Linked DNA regions of Homo sapiens. The protein of the gene in region 1 purifies or fractionates together with the protein of each later gene. This does not show direct contact. Each region holds a gene or a part of one and is shown in the gene's direction. Other genes may lie near its edges.

Region 1 (3,500 bases):
TTACCAAATTCCACTTGTAATTTATATATGTGTGTGTATATATAATCTACAGTTAAAAATAAGTTTTTTCCTTTGTAATGACAACGTGGTTTTCTATTATCAGTGTAAACTATCGCAGACAGCTAGCTAATTGCTATAAGAATAGTTCAACATCAACTAAACTAAAATCAAAATTTTTTGCCAGATTCTTTAATATTCAACTAAAAATACTAATGCTGTAAATTATCTGTATATAACTTATTATTAACTTAATAGAACACTGATCAAAATTACATGAATTTGATCTTCAATAGAGCTGTCCTGAGGTTAATTTATACTTGAAGTGGCCAAGTATGGTTGAGATAGTTGATTATCATTGGGGGAAATTTGGTTTTAAAGTCAGACGTAAAATTGTATCCTGTTTTAGCCACTTAGTATCTGTATGACCTGGGAAAGTTTATTGAAGTTCAGTATAGGTACATCATTTGTAAAAGAGGATTAATATTAAACATTCCAAAATTTGTGAGAATTAATCATGTTGTAACATGTATAAAATGCCTTACACAGTGCTTGGTATATAGTTGGTACTCCATAAGTGCTACTTCAGTCTTCTCTTTCTCTCTCAACTGTAAATGCGGAAATAATTGTCCCTTAGAATTACTGAATTCCTTGGGATTTTTACCGAATTCCCTCTAGGGACATCCAGGAAGACTGAAATCTTCTCTTTAAGATAGTTTTTACTTCTACCTAGCAGAGTCAATAACATTTACTTTCTTGATAGAATGGTTGTTTATTGGAGCAAGAAACCAAGTTAGACTATTGCTTTTCAAATTAGAAGGTTATCTGTTTTAAATAAAATTTACTAATATTACTTCAGTAATCCTAGAGAACATTTGCATACTCCTGCTTTGTACGTATGACTCAATTTTGAGATAATTAACCATTTGTACCTTCCAATATTCAGGCTAGACAGTAGATATTTGAGAGTGTCTGAGGGGTGCATAGACCATCTAATCTTTAGATTTTCTAAGCTCCACACCAAAATCTGGTAGAATTACTGGAGTACCACATACTTCAACTGCTTATATCAAAAAATGTTTTCACTCATTTACTATAATGCAAAAAAAGGCTCTTAGTTGTTTGAGGTTCATTATTAAAAGTGGCTGCTTGAAAATATCTTCATTTGTAGACTTTCTTTCCCCCTTGTTAATTTATTGACCTTACATAAGTATGCATGTGACAAATCTCTTGTAGACCCAAAGGTAGGAAATAGATTTTACTATGGGGAATAACACTGATAAGAACACTTGATTTTATTCCTTTGCCTGCCTTCCAGAAAGCATTCATAGCATAAAATAATGTTTAAGCCTGTAATTCTTATCCAAGATGTCTGGTAGAACTTTCCTCTTTCCTTATAACTTTAAATCATTTCGTACTTCTTTTCAGCTAATTTTTTTTGGGAGGGGGTTATGTTTCTTCAGTATAAACCACCTCAGTTCTCCTTTTGAAATAGATGTTGCATAAGTTATAATTATATATGTTTATCACTGACACCACTAAAAAGAATTTGACTTGGTTTTTTAACCAGTTTGTCTTAAGCTTCCTGTAGTTGTTTCCCCGCTCCTCCCCGCTCCCAAATATATTTTAAGAGAGTTCCTGTGCCTCTTACATTAACATCTTCACTGTAGTCATGGATGATCCAATGCCTGACATTTTATATGTACCATCTAAAGGACATAATTGTGCAGAGAGAGAGAAGGATTATTGCATTTTCTTTGAACTTTTCCTTATTTGGGATGCCCTATTATTGGATATGTATTCATGAAAGAATCTCATTTGTTGATCTAGGTTTATCATCATTGGATTTTTAGATGAGGATTGGCATCTGGGTCTTACAACTACCCTTCTTTTGTTCCAGGGTTTGGTTAATAAAAACTCTAAGAACTGTGCCAAATGGGATCAAAATATCAGCTTTATTAAAGGTAAAGTTGAAATAGAGATTGCAGTTTGGGCTTGAAGCCAGAATGGGGTTTTTCACTCCTGCCCTTTGAATTGGAAACAGTAGAATGAGAAGAGCTCAAAAATGTTAATCTGCTATTGCTCATTCCAGGGAATTAGAGCAGAGGTCCCTTTCCTCTGAGGGAAGAGGGAAAGAAAAAGGAGGAAATACATACTCAAATGTTCTAATTCCTCCTCTGATGGCAAACGTGTTCAGAGAAAGGGTAAAAGGTGTATCATGCAATTCCTGACTTAACCCCAGCAATAAGATATACAAACATGGATTTTTAAAAATAAAATCTAGGGCTGGGATCCGGTGGCTCACACCTATAATCCCAGCACTTTGGGAGGCTGAGGTGCGCAGATCACCTGAGGTTGGGAGTTCGACACCAGCCTGACCAACATGGAGAAACCCCGTCTCTACTAAAAAAAAATACAAAATTAGCTGGGCGTGGTGGTGCATGCCTGTAATCCCAGCTACTCGGGAGGCTGAGGCAGGAGAATCACTTGAACCTGGGAGGCCGAGGTTGTGGTGAGCTGATATCGTGCCATTGCACTCCAGCCTGGGCAACAAGAGTGAAACTCCGTCTCAAAATGAATAAATAAATAATTTTAAAAATCTAGTTTTACAATAAAATCTAAATATATAAACTTTTAAAATATCTTAACGCAGTAGTGTCTTGGGTTTTTTGTTGTTGTTGAGACAGAGTCTCGCTCTGTTGCCCAGGCTGGAGTACAGTGGCTTGATCTTGGCTTACTGCAACCTCCACCTCCCAGGTTCAAGCGATCCTCCTGCCTCAGCCTCCTGAGTAGCTGTGACTACAGGCACTTGCCGCCATGCCCGGCTAATTTTTGTATCTTTAGTGGAGATGGGGTTTTGCCACATTGGCCAGGCTGGTCTCGAACTCCTGACCTCTGGTGATCCACCTGCCTTGGCCTCCCAAAGTGCTAGGATTACAGGTGTGAGCCACTGCACCCGGCCTAATAGTGTTTTTAAAAAGTAAAAATAAAAGAAGACAGTGGAGAAAATGTTAACCTTCTGATTTGGTTGCATGCTTGGATTCTTTGCTTTGGTAGAAAAAGGAAATAACTAATGGGATCAAAAGTAAATTAACTGGAATGATTCTAGGGTAACTCACAAACTGAAGGAAAAGTTAAAACAACCAAGTCTTTGGAAAAACAGAGAACCTCAGATCTCAGAAGTAGAAACTCATCAATCTTCTCCCTGCAGTGCTGTCATCCAGTGCTTCAGTTCACCATGCTGTCTTCGTTAACTGTATCCCTGGTCAAGATTCAGATCCAGACAGATATTTTGATTGGCTCAGCCTGAGACAAGTGCTTATCTCTAGACCACAGTCACTTTACCTAAGAGGGATATAGGAAATTAAAATTGTTCCAGCCCCTCTGGTGAGGGGAGCAAGGCAGAAGAGAACAAGGTGGGAGGTGGAATAAACTATACCGAGCTGACCAAAGAATAGCAACCATACATTCATTTATCCAGCCATTATTTAATAAGTGCGTCC
Region 2 (3,500 bases), on another chromosome or scaffold:
TCATTTTGGTTTAAGATGAAGAAAATCCCACCTCACAGTCATATGAAGTTGGAAAGAAGAATATTTTAATAGCTTTTTAAAGATAATCATGGATGTTCTTTGATATCACATCAAAGTTTGACAAATCGTAGCTTTTTAAAGGTTAGTTACAAAGTGGAATTTGAAACTATATCAATGTACTTGTTTTACACTGTTACATTAATATCCAATGGTGTACCTTACACTTTGAATGGATGTTGAATCCATGCCTGTTTTTTAAAACATTAAGCATAAGTCCTTCGGAAATTTTAGTGGTTCACTGTGTTATACAGTTCTTCCTAATGTTGACATATTTCATTATACAGTATCAAACAATCACTTTCCTTAATGTCTTCCTATTTAGTCGGAAAAGTCTTCAAGTATTGGGAAGCTGTCAAGCTCACAGTGGCAGATAGGATTTTCCAAAATTCTAGTTTTCACTTGAAAGCTAGAATTTTATCATTGGTAACACAAACTGTCAGTTGTTTTACTTGAAGTGACAATCTCACTTTGTTACATTTTTGACAGAATTTCTGCCACATACTTAAGTCTGAATAACCCTGGTTTGTCTGTCAGTAGTTTTTTTCTGGTAAAAATGGTGTTCCATGGGCTGGGCACGGTGGCTCACGCCTGTAATCCCAGCACTTTGGGAGGCCATGGCAGGTGGATCACGAAGTCAGGAGATCGAGACCATCCTGGCTAACACGGTGAAACCCTGTCTCTACTGAAAATACAAAAAATTAGCCGGGCGTGGTGGCGGGCGCCTGTAGTCCCAACTACTCGGGAGGCTGAGGCAGGAGAATGGCGTGAACCCGGAAGGTGGAGTTTGCAGTGCGCCGAGATTGTGCCACTGCACTCCAGCCTGGGCGACAGAGCGAGACTCCGTCTCAAAAAAAAAAAAAAAAAAATGGTTTTCCATGAAAAAAATCTATTTCAGCTCACAGTTCAACCAATTGCAAAAGTGCTTTTGATTTGGGCAACCAAATCCTCAGGACAACCCTTATACTCAGGTACACAGCAGAAATGCTTTGTGTGTACTTGGTCACATATAACTCAAAGGTAGAGATTTAATAAAAATTCATACTTTTTACCATTTCATTAAGGATATTCTAAAATGAAATTGACATTATTTTTAGCCTGAGTGCATGGCAATGAAAAATATAGCTACTAGTATAGTTTGGTGTCATTGCCTCAATTTGTGCTGAAGTACCAACAGTATTATCCACCATTCCTTTTCGCCATCAGTGCAAATGTTCATAAAGTAAAAAGGATAAATAATGTCTTAGTATTGTTATGAAAGATTTTTAACCTCACAGATTCCTTGAAAGTGTCTCAGGAACCCCTCCCCATACCTCTACCTTTAAGGTTTGTGGACTACATTTTGAGAGCTGCCGATATGTGGTATTAGATTCTTTGTTTATGCATGGAAGAAAATAAATATACTAATAGCCAAAAAATTATTACCTTGTTAGAAGCTACCATAAATATATTAACTAATTTGTTACATAAGGGCATATCTTACAGTTAATCATCATATATGGTAGTCCTTAACCCAGGGCTTCCTTGACTTAATCACAGAATCTGCTCTGTTTCAAAATCAGTATCTTCCAAAAGAGTTCATATTAGACAACATGGAGGACCCCCTGTGTTCTCCTGTTTTTCCTGTTTCCTCTGACACTTGGGAGTTCATTTTAGTGTTATGGAGTAACTAGGCTTTTGCCTAACTGACTTACAGTTTCCATTGGGTTTTCTTGTTGGCAGAGCTGCTATATCCCCTTCCCAAGGCCAGCTTCCAGCTAGGATCATTGATTGGGGTGTTCAGCCAACTTCTTGGGAATAAGTGGACTGAGAATCTGGAGTTTGGATTATAGTTGCTGTTCAATTCACTTTGTGACCTTAAAAAAATCACTCACTCCCTTGGACCTCTTTCAAGTTATGTACCTATGTATGTATGTATTTTAGAGACAAGGTCTCACTCTGTCATCCAGGCTGAAGTGCAGTGGGGCATGATCATGGCTCACTGCGGTCTCAAACTCTGGTTTCAAACAATCCTCCCTGCCTCAGCCTTCTGAGTAGCTGGGACTACAGGCGCTCACCACCATGCCCAGCTAATTTGAAAAAATTGTTTGTAGAGATAGGATCTTGCTATGTTGCCGAGGCTAGTCTAGAATTCCTGGCCACAAATGATCCTCCCATCTCAACCTCTGAAAGTGCTGGGATTACAGGAGTGTACTATCATGCCTGGCCCAGGTTCCTTATATTGTAAAATGAAAAGGACTAGACTAAATAATAGCTAAGGCCTTAAAAAAAAAACAAAAAGCAAAAAACCTCTATATTGCCATAGCAAACCAGGAGAATTCCTCCTCCTACCTCAGATTGTACAGCATGTGACCCAAGCAAAGCCTAATGTATATTATAGAATAAGAGGGATGAGTGACATGGTCAAAGAAACAAACGAGAAGGTTGACTCAACAATATTTAGCCGAAACAATAGCTGTAATAGCCTAGCTTCCTCTTGCAATTAGAAAAGACAGCTTGGTTTGTTTTTTGGTTTTTGTTTTTTTGAGACAGTCTCGCTCTGTTGCCCAGGCTGGAATACAGTGGCATGATCTCGGCTCACTGCAACCTCTGCCTTCTGGGTTCAAGCAATTATCCTGCCTCAGGCTCCTGAGTGGCTGGGATTACAGGTCCCCACAACCACGCCTGGCTGATTTTTTGTATTTTTAGTAGAGCTGGGGTTTCACTATGTGGGCCTGGCTGGTCTTGAACTCCTGACCTCAAGTGATCTGCCCACCTCAGCTTCCTAAAGTGCTGGGATTATAGGCGTGAGCCACTGCACCTGGCCTAAAAAACACAGCTTGGTTTTTTAAAATGATGACAGCAATGCGTGTTCATTATTGAAAACTTAGCAAGTAATGACAAGCAAAAGAAAATATTAAATATATATATAATCCAGCCACCTGGAACAGCCAATTCTTAACAGCTTTCAAAATTTCCTCTATGAACAGACTTTCTTTTTATAAATATGATATTGTTATTCTTTTATAATTTTTAATATTATACAAACATCCCCTAAAATATAAATAGCTATAATATATTCCTTTTGGGGATGTATGCAATTTGATTAATATACGCCTTTAGAAATGTCAACTATTCCCAACTTCCTGCAATGAGTAATAGTGCTTGGATAAACATTCCTATTGTCCTTTTCCAAATCTTTAGTTATTTTCTTAGTATAAATTCTTACAAATGGAATTTGTACATCAAAGGGCATGCATACCTTTCAGGTCTTTGGTACTTATCATCTTATTCTATTCTAAAAACTTTCTCCCAAATTATAACCTTACCAGGTGAGTAAGTAAATGCTGGTTTCCTATACTGTTACCAACATTGAGCATTTTAATTTTTTTTATCCTTACCAGTTTGATAAGTGGAAATTTCTCTTATTATAATTTGCATTTTCATACATTTTTGGAAGGTTT
Region 3 (3,500 bases), on another chromosome or scaffold:
TGCAAAAAAAATTACGGATTTTCTTTTATTTTCTTTTTTTAGTTTTGTTGACTGTATAGGTAATGTAAGCACCACCGTTAACATTATCCCAAAGAGTCCTCTGCCTCCAACCTAAATTCCCTAATGCTGCACCTTTGTAGTGAGACTCTCTTCCTACACCTAACCCCTGGCAACCACTGATCTGTTTACCATCTTCCTAGTTTTGCCTTTTCCAGAATGTCATAAAAGTGGAATCATACATTGTGTAACCTTTTTTTCTTTTTTTTTGTGAGACGGAGTTTTACTCTTGTTGCCCAGGCTGGAGTGCAATGGCACAATCTCAGCTCACAGGAACCTCCTCCGCCTCCTGGGTTCAAGCGATTCTCCTGCCTCAGCCTCCCGGATAGCTGTGATTACAGGCATGTGCCACCATGCCCGGCTAATTTTGTATTTTTAGTAGAGATGGGGTTTCTACTAAACCCCATCAGGCTGATCATGAACTCCTGACCAAAGGTGATCCACCCGCCTCAGTATCCCAAAGTGCTGGGATTACAGGCGTGAGCCGCTGCACCCAGCCCCACATTGTGTAACCTTTTGAGTCTGAATTTTTCACCTGGCATCATGTTTTTGAGATTCAGGCACACTGTTGTGCATGTTAGGATGTGGTACATCCTTTTTCTTGATGAAGTAGTTTGCCATTGTATGGAAGTATCACAGATGGTTTATCAAAGAACATTTGAGTTGTTCCCGGGTTTTGGCAATTATGAATAATGCTGCTGTAAACACTTACCTACAGGTTTTTGTGTGAGCATAGTTTTCATCTATTCTGGGTAAATACCTAGGAGTGGGATTGCTGATTCATGTAACTGTATGTTTAACTTTATAAGAAATGGCCAAGCTTTTCCAGAGCAACTCTACGGTTTTACATTCTTACAAACAGTGTATGTGAGTTCTGGTTGCCCTGCATCCTCACTAATACTTAGTATCGTTAGTTTTGTTTGTTTTTAAAACTTTAGCCATTCCACCAAGTTCTTTGAGTAAAGCAATGTAATCACCTCAAAGTAAAATAGTGCCTTTTTAATGCTAACCCATGCTCACATGAATTAGGAAAGCCTGGAGGTGGTGTTGATCCCAGAGCCTAGGTATAATACGGAATTTATATTTGACTCTAATATCTTTATTCTCCTTCATTCTTTTTTCCCCACAGTATTTCTTTTTTTTTTTAATTTTAACACACCATTGCTTGCTTGAAGAGCCATAGTATCTCTTATTTCCTGTGGAGTATGCATTCTGAAGTTGATTATAGACGGAAGTGCCATTATATAGCACATTCCCTGCCAATTCAAGTTCTCTCTTCCTCCTTAATGGTCTCTGTTCTAATCCCTTGAGATATGGCTTTCTAGAACTTGGAAATAACTTGTTTTGTTGTTAGAAAGCTAGACATATTGTTCATATACTTTGTTTATTATCCTGATTAATTCCTTATTGGAACATCTTATATTGTCAAACTGAATACTTACCAGTTCTCAGATACAGTGCTTTGTAAAGCCTTGATAGTCTGTCATTGGACGTTTCATCAGTTGCTCATGGTCTAAGGTTCTGTAAGCTAAATGTGAATGGTATTTAGGCTTATACTTTTTTATAAAATTCAGTTTTAGGGTTTGTCTCGTTCTCTAGCGGTGATGTTGTCTACCTCTTTACTATCTTAGCTCTTGTAAAACTCTGAGTTACGGTTGTTGACACATTTAAATGGCATTTGGATTTTCTCTTCAGTAATTATTATTCTCTTTAGTATCTTTTTAATTTGAGAAATAGCCTGTTGAAAAAGATCTGTAAGATTTTTTTATTAGGTACCACTTTGAAATTTTTTTTAAATATATTTTTTGAGACAGAGTCTCGCTGTGTTGCCCAGGCTGGAGTGCAGTGGCACGAACTTGGCTCACGGTAACCTCTGCCTCCCAGGTTCAAATGATTCTTGTGCCTCAGCCTCCCGAGTAGCCGGGACTACAGGTGCCCACCACCATGCCCAGCTAATTTTTGGATTTTTAGTAGAGAGGGGGTTTTGCCGTGTTGGCCAGGCTTGTCTTGAACTCCTGAGCTCAAGCGATCTGCCCAACTCAGCCTCCTAAAGTGCTGGAATTACAGGTGGGAGCCACCACTCCCGGCTCCACTTTGAATTTTGATTTGAAGAGTAATATATAGTATTTGACACTGAGAAAAACTGCATTCAACTGTTCTTCATCCTTGATGCTCCTATAGAAATAGTTGTGAAAAAAAGAATCATGAGAAAGTGCCAAGGAGGATTGACACACCTGACCAGATGGCACAGAGGAGCACGGGGTATAAAACAATGCAGGGAGGAGGCTGGGAGCAGTGCACTTGGCATATGTGAGCTGCACTTCATAGGCACTGTTAGTAAATGATATATCTTTAAGTTTAGAGTATTGAGATTTGGGGTATCTTAAAATTTCTAATTCTGTGACTTTTAAAATTAAATGATATGTAAGCTTCCTTTTTGGAGTTGGCTTTCTAGTAAAGAGAACTATCCTTCACTATGGCATAACCTCTGAGTATAAAACTCATTTCCCCAACACTGTTGAATGTAGAAAAGTTCTCTAGGATCAGTTTAAATGTCAAGGTGAAGTTCTAGAAAGGAGCCCTTCCTTAGCACCTCCACCCCTCATCATGAAGCCTACTTGGTGGCAATAACATGCATAATAATTGGCTGTAAGATGTGTTCCTGTAGCAAAACTTTTGGCTGCTTCTCAAGATTCGAATCTGGGCTTCTGGTTCTCAGAAGCTCCTGACCCAAGCCTTTGGGGTGGCAGGCGCACCAGACAGGACCTGGTTGCTTACTTCTTGCATTCCAGCTGGACTGGTTTCTATTCATGGTAGATGCTCCAAATTAGTTCAGTGACAACTTCACCACAGGCGTGGTGGGTTCATTTAAATATGGGTCACTCCTTGACCCCAAGGTTATGTTGTTGAAATGATTATTGCGCCCATGTGCTGGAGTATCATTGATTCACATCATTGGCTCTCAATCTTGGCAGTGATTAAAAATCACCTGGGGACCATTTAAATATCAGGATGCCCAGGTGGCATCCAAGGTAATTATCTGAGAATCTTGCAGGATGGGAGTCAGGTGGCAGTGTTTTTAAAATTCCCCAGATGGTCTGGTGTGCAATCAGTGCTGAGAACTAATGATTCAGAACCATTTCCTATTGTATTCCCTTCCATTTGACTATTGTGGTGTGTGGTGTCAAGTGTGTGCACCTTGCTTATGGAAACCACATGGAAAATCGTAATAGCAATTGCCCTAAGTCTAGTGAGTTTACTCAGGTTGTCTCTTATTTTGCCCCAGGACTTTTTTGAAGGAAATATAGATGTGAATACAGTTATGAGTACAATTGAATAGCTAAGTATGCACACATATACTCAGTGTCCACATGTACGCACATTTCTGTATGAATATGTGCAGTGAGACAAAATACCATTCAGCTTTTGTTTTGACTTTGCCT
Region 4 (3,500 bases), on another chromosome or scaffold:
GAGATTACAGGCGTGAGCCACCACGCCCAGCCTTGATTTTTTTAAAAATATGAGTGTAATGTATTTCCCCTGCTAATTAAGTAATTAACTAAAATTAAATAAAGGTCAGGAGACAGAAGAGTACAAGAAAGAAGGAAAAATGGTTAATCTTTTTTTTTTTTTTTTTTTTTTTGTGTGTGTGTGTGTGAGATGGAATCTCGCTCTGTCGCCCAGACTGGAGTGTGGAGTACAGTGGCACAATCTTGGCTCACTGCAATCTCTGCCTCCCGGGTTCAGGCGATTCTCATACCTCACCCTCCCAAGTAGCTAGGATTACAGGTGTGCACCACGACACCTGGCTAATTTTTGTATTTTTAGTAGAGACGGGGTTTCATCATGTTGGCCAGGCTGATCTCGAACTCCCAGTCTCAAGTGATGTGCCCGCCTCGGCCTCCCAAAGTGCTGGGATTACAGGTGTGAGCCATCATGCCCAGCCAAAATGGTTAGTCTTAATTTTGTCATGCAGAGTTATGCTTGGAAGAAGTGTTTTCTGGTCAGTAATTTGTGAGTCTTTAAATTGCAATACTAGAAGCCAGATATGCATCTAATATGTGTATGTATGATCTTTCATAAACATAGGAGTTTAAGACCAAACTGGCCAACATGGTGAAACCCAATCTCTACTAAAAGTACAAAAATTAGCTGGATGCAGTGGTGTGTTAGACATTTTCTACATGAACTGGTCTTGCTAAGATCACCAGTGACCTTAAAATGTTTACTAGTACTATTTAACCTCTCCACGTATTTCATACTGCTTGGCCATTGCTGCCTGACATTCTCCCCTAGGTTCTATCTTCTCTATCCTTGTTTCACCTGTTCTTCCTTTGTGCCTTTCCTTCCTCTTTTCTTCCATATTTTCCTGGTTCCTTTTTCTTTCTAATAGTCTCTTAAATATTGATCTTTTCCAGAATTCTTTCCTTAGCCTCTTCTTATTTCTAGTAATCTATCTGGGTATTTTTTAAATCCACTCTTATGGTTTTAATTACTACCTGAATATAACTTTGAAATTTGTACATCTCACCTAGATCTCTCTGGGTTTTTTTTTTTTTTTTTTTTGAGACGGAGTCTCGCTCTGTCACCCAGGCTGGAGTGCAGTGGCGCGATCTCGGCTCACTGCCAGCTCTGCCTCCCAGGTTCACACCATTCTCCTGCCTCAGCCTCCTGAGTAGTACACCCAGCCTCCTGAGTAGTACGCCCGGCTAATTTTTTGTATTTTTGGTAAAGATGGGGTTTCACCGTGTTAGCCAGGATGGTCGCGATCTCCTGACCTCGTGATGTTTTGTTTTTTGAGACAGAGTCTTGCTCTGTTGCCCAGGCTGGAATACAGTAGCACAATCTTGGCTCACTGCAACCTCTGCCCCCGCCGGGTTCAAGCAATCCTCCTGCCCCAGCCTCCTTGGTAGCTGGGATTATAGGCTCCCGCCACCATGCCCAGCTAATTTTTCTATTTTTAGTAGAGATTCACCATGTTGGCCAGGCTGGTCTCGAACTCCTGACTTCAGGTGATCCACCCGCCTCAGCCTCCCAAAGTGCTGGGATTGCAGGCGTGAGCCACCATCTGAGAATTTACATTGTACCAGAGCAAAATATTTTAAATTAAAAAACAAGAAACAATTTTAGCCAAAAAAAGGAAAACCACCCCAAAATAGATTTTTTTTAAAGAAATAAGGCGTCAAAGACATTCTAGAAACCTTACCCAATCCAAACTTTGGCCCCAGTTCTAACCCTTGCCCTTGCCTTGTATTGCCTTTATGCCACCAACTTTATAAGCCATGCTTGGTTATGATGATTATTAGAGACACAGGTACTTAAAATAGGACAGGGGTTCTAGCCACTATGTCTTCCAATCCCTGTTATTTGTAAAACTTTATGATAATGGAGAAGTTATATACTGTTGGCATTTTATTATTAAATTAGATGTTTGCCTGTTTTTAAGGTGGCTTGTGTTTTTGTTTTTTGGTTTTTTCTTAGGCATCTGTGGGAAAACTAGAATTGCAGAAGTTGGAGGTGTGCCTTACTTATTGCCTCTTGTAAACCAAAAAAAAGTAAGTACTTTTACTCTGCATATTCACATGAAGATTGTAGAAGTTGGGTTGATTACTGTGTTTATTATTAGAAGACCTGTTGATCAGTTGGCAAGGAAGTGCTAATGGATCAGTAATAAAAGGTAAACCAGGGACTTTGTACAAGTTGTGACTTAAATAATATTTTTTCCTCTTCTATAGGTTTATGATCTGAATAAAATTGCAAAAGAAATCAAGCTGCCTGGAGCCTTTATTCTTGGAGCAGGAGCAGGTCCATTTCAGACTCTCGGGTTCAATTCTGAGGTCAGCATATATAAGAAAATTATTTTACTTTATTGGTTTGACATTTGGTTTGTCTTTTTGCTTTTAGTGCCAAAAATCCTACTTTCTGAGTGAATTGTAAATCTCTCTGCAGGTTTGATACTACTTGATGTAGATTTCTGCTATAGCACACACTCCAACTGGACTAACTGTAATGGAGTACTAACTTGTAGTTTTAGATTTTCTTAGGTCATAGCTTCAGCCTTAGATAAATGCAGGGTTCTATGGTATTCTGTTGAAGGTTCTGGATTATAAAATATTTATATTCTTACAGGATTCCGAGCTTATCTATAAATCTTTGCTTTGGGTATGCAGGCAGCTTTGGATTAGAAGATGAATGGAATATTAGTGATCTAGTCAACTCCTTCTTCCACACCAAATAGTAGGAAACTATCACAATAGTATGATGGTTATTTATGAAAGTTAATAGTTATTACTAGTATATATTATTACCATATGAAAATATTACTGTTTCTTTGAATCTCATGAATACAAGACTTCAGTCTGCTCATTCTCTCATAACCTCTTCAGATATGAATAGTAGTCATACAAGTTCTTTGCAGAAACATTAGTACAATTTGCCTAGTGTTCAAGTTAGGAAAAAAAGTTAAAAATTTAAAATAAGATATTTAACGCAAGTTATAGATACACTGTAAGAAATCCAATAAATATCTTTTTTTTTTTTTTTTTTTTTTTTGAGATGGAGTCTCGCTCTGTCGCCATGCTGGAGTGCAGTGGCGCGATCTTGGCTCACTGCAACCTCCACCTCCCAGGTTCAAGCAATTCTCTTGCCTCAGCCTCTTGAGTAGCTGGGACTACAGGTGTGTGCCACCACGCCCAGCTAATTTTTGTATTTTTAGTAGAGACAGGTTTTCACCATGTTGGCCAGGATGGTCTTGATCTCTTCTCTTGACCTCGTGATCCGCCCCCCTTGGCCTCCCAAAGTGCTGGGATTACAGGCATGAGCCACAGCGCCCGGCCTATAAATGTTTTCCAAGTTTTTTATGTCTAAAATTAAATATTATGTATTTTATGTTCTCTTATTAGGACTTGAACTAAAATGTCTTAAAAGGATTAAATGTTTTGTAACATTATTCAAGATATTCTCTTTGCAGA

What was found.
Region 2: the proteins of GNPDA2 (region 1) and NLN fractionate together in Homo sapiens (co-fractionation; one large-scale study listed by BioGRID). This does not show direct contact.
Region 3: the proteins of GNPDA2 (region 1) and MAP7 purify together in Homo sapiens (affinity purification with mass spectrometry; one large-scale study listed by BioGRID and IntAct). This does not show direct contact.
Region 4: the proteins of GNPDA2 (region 1) and C11orf54 fractionate together in Homo sapiens (co-fractionation; one large-scale study listed by BioGRID). This does not show direct contact.

What each region holds. Positions count from the first base shown.
Region 1 is NC_000004.12:44,713,057-44,716,556, reverse strand, and holds part of GNPDA2 (glucosamine-6-phosphate deaminase 2), read left to right. Parts: intron 1-1,897; exon of another isoform or gene 1,898-1,961; intron 1,962-3,500. UniProt on the Homo sapiens protein: Catalyzes the reversible conversion of alpha-D-glucosamine 6-phosphate (GlcN-6P) into beta-D-fructose 6-phosphate (Fru-6P) and ammonium ion, a regulatory reaction step in de novo uridine diphosphate-N-acetyl-alpha-D-glucosamine (UDP-GlcNAc) biosynthesis via hexosamine pathway.
Region 2 is NC_000005.10:65,725,205-65,728,704, forward strand, and holds part of NLN (neurolysin, mitochondrial), read left to right. Parts: intron 1-3,500. UniProt on the Homo sapiens protein: Hydrolyzes oligopeptides such as neurotensin, bradykinin and dynorphin A. Acts as a regulator of cannabinoid signaling pathway by mediating degradation of hemopressin, an antagonist peptide of the cannabinoid receptor CNR1.
Region 3 is NC_000006.12:136,540,423-136,543,922, reverse strand, and holds part of MAP7 (ensconsin), read left to right. Parts: intron 1-3,500. UniProt on the Homo sapiens protein: Microtubule-stabilizing protein that may play an important role during reorganization of microtubules during polarization and differentiation of epithelial cells. Associates with microtubules in a dynamic manner.
Region 4 is NC_000011.10:93,751,672-93,755,171, forward strand, and holds part of C11orf54 (ester hydrolase C11orf54), read left to right. Parts: intron 1-2,010; coding exon 2,011-2,084; exon of another isoform or gene 2,085-2,088; intron 2,089-2,264; coding exon 2,265-2,366; intron 2,367-3,500. UniProt on the Homo sapiens protein: Exhibits ester hydrolase activity on the substrate p-nitrophenyl acetate, in vitro. Regulates DNA damage and repair by regulating HIF1A degradation via chaperone-mediated autophagy (CMA).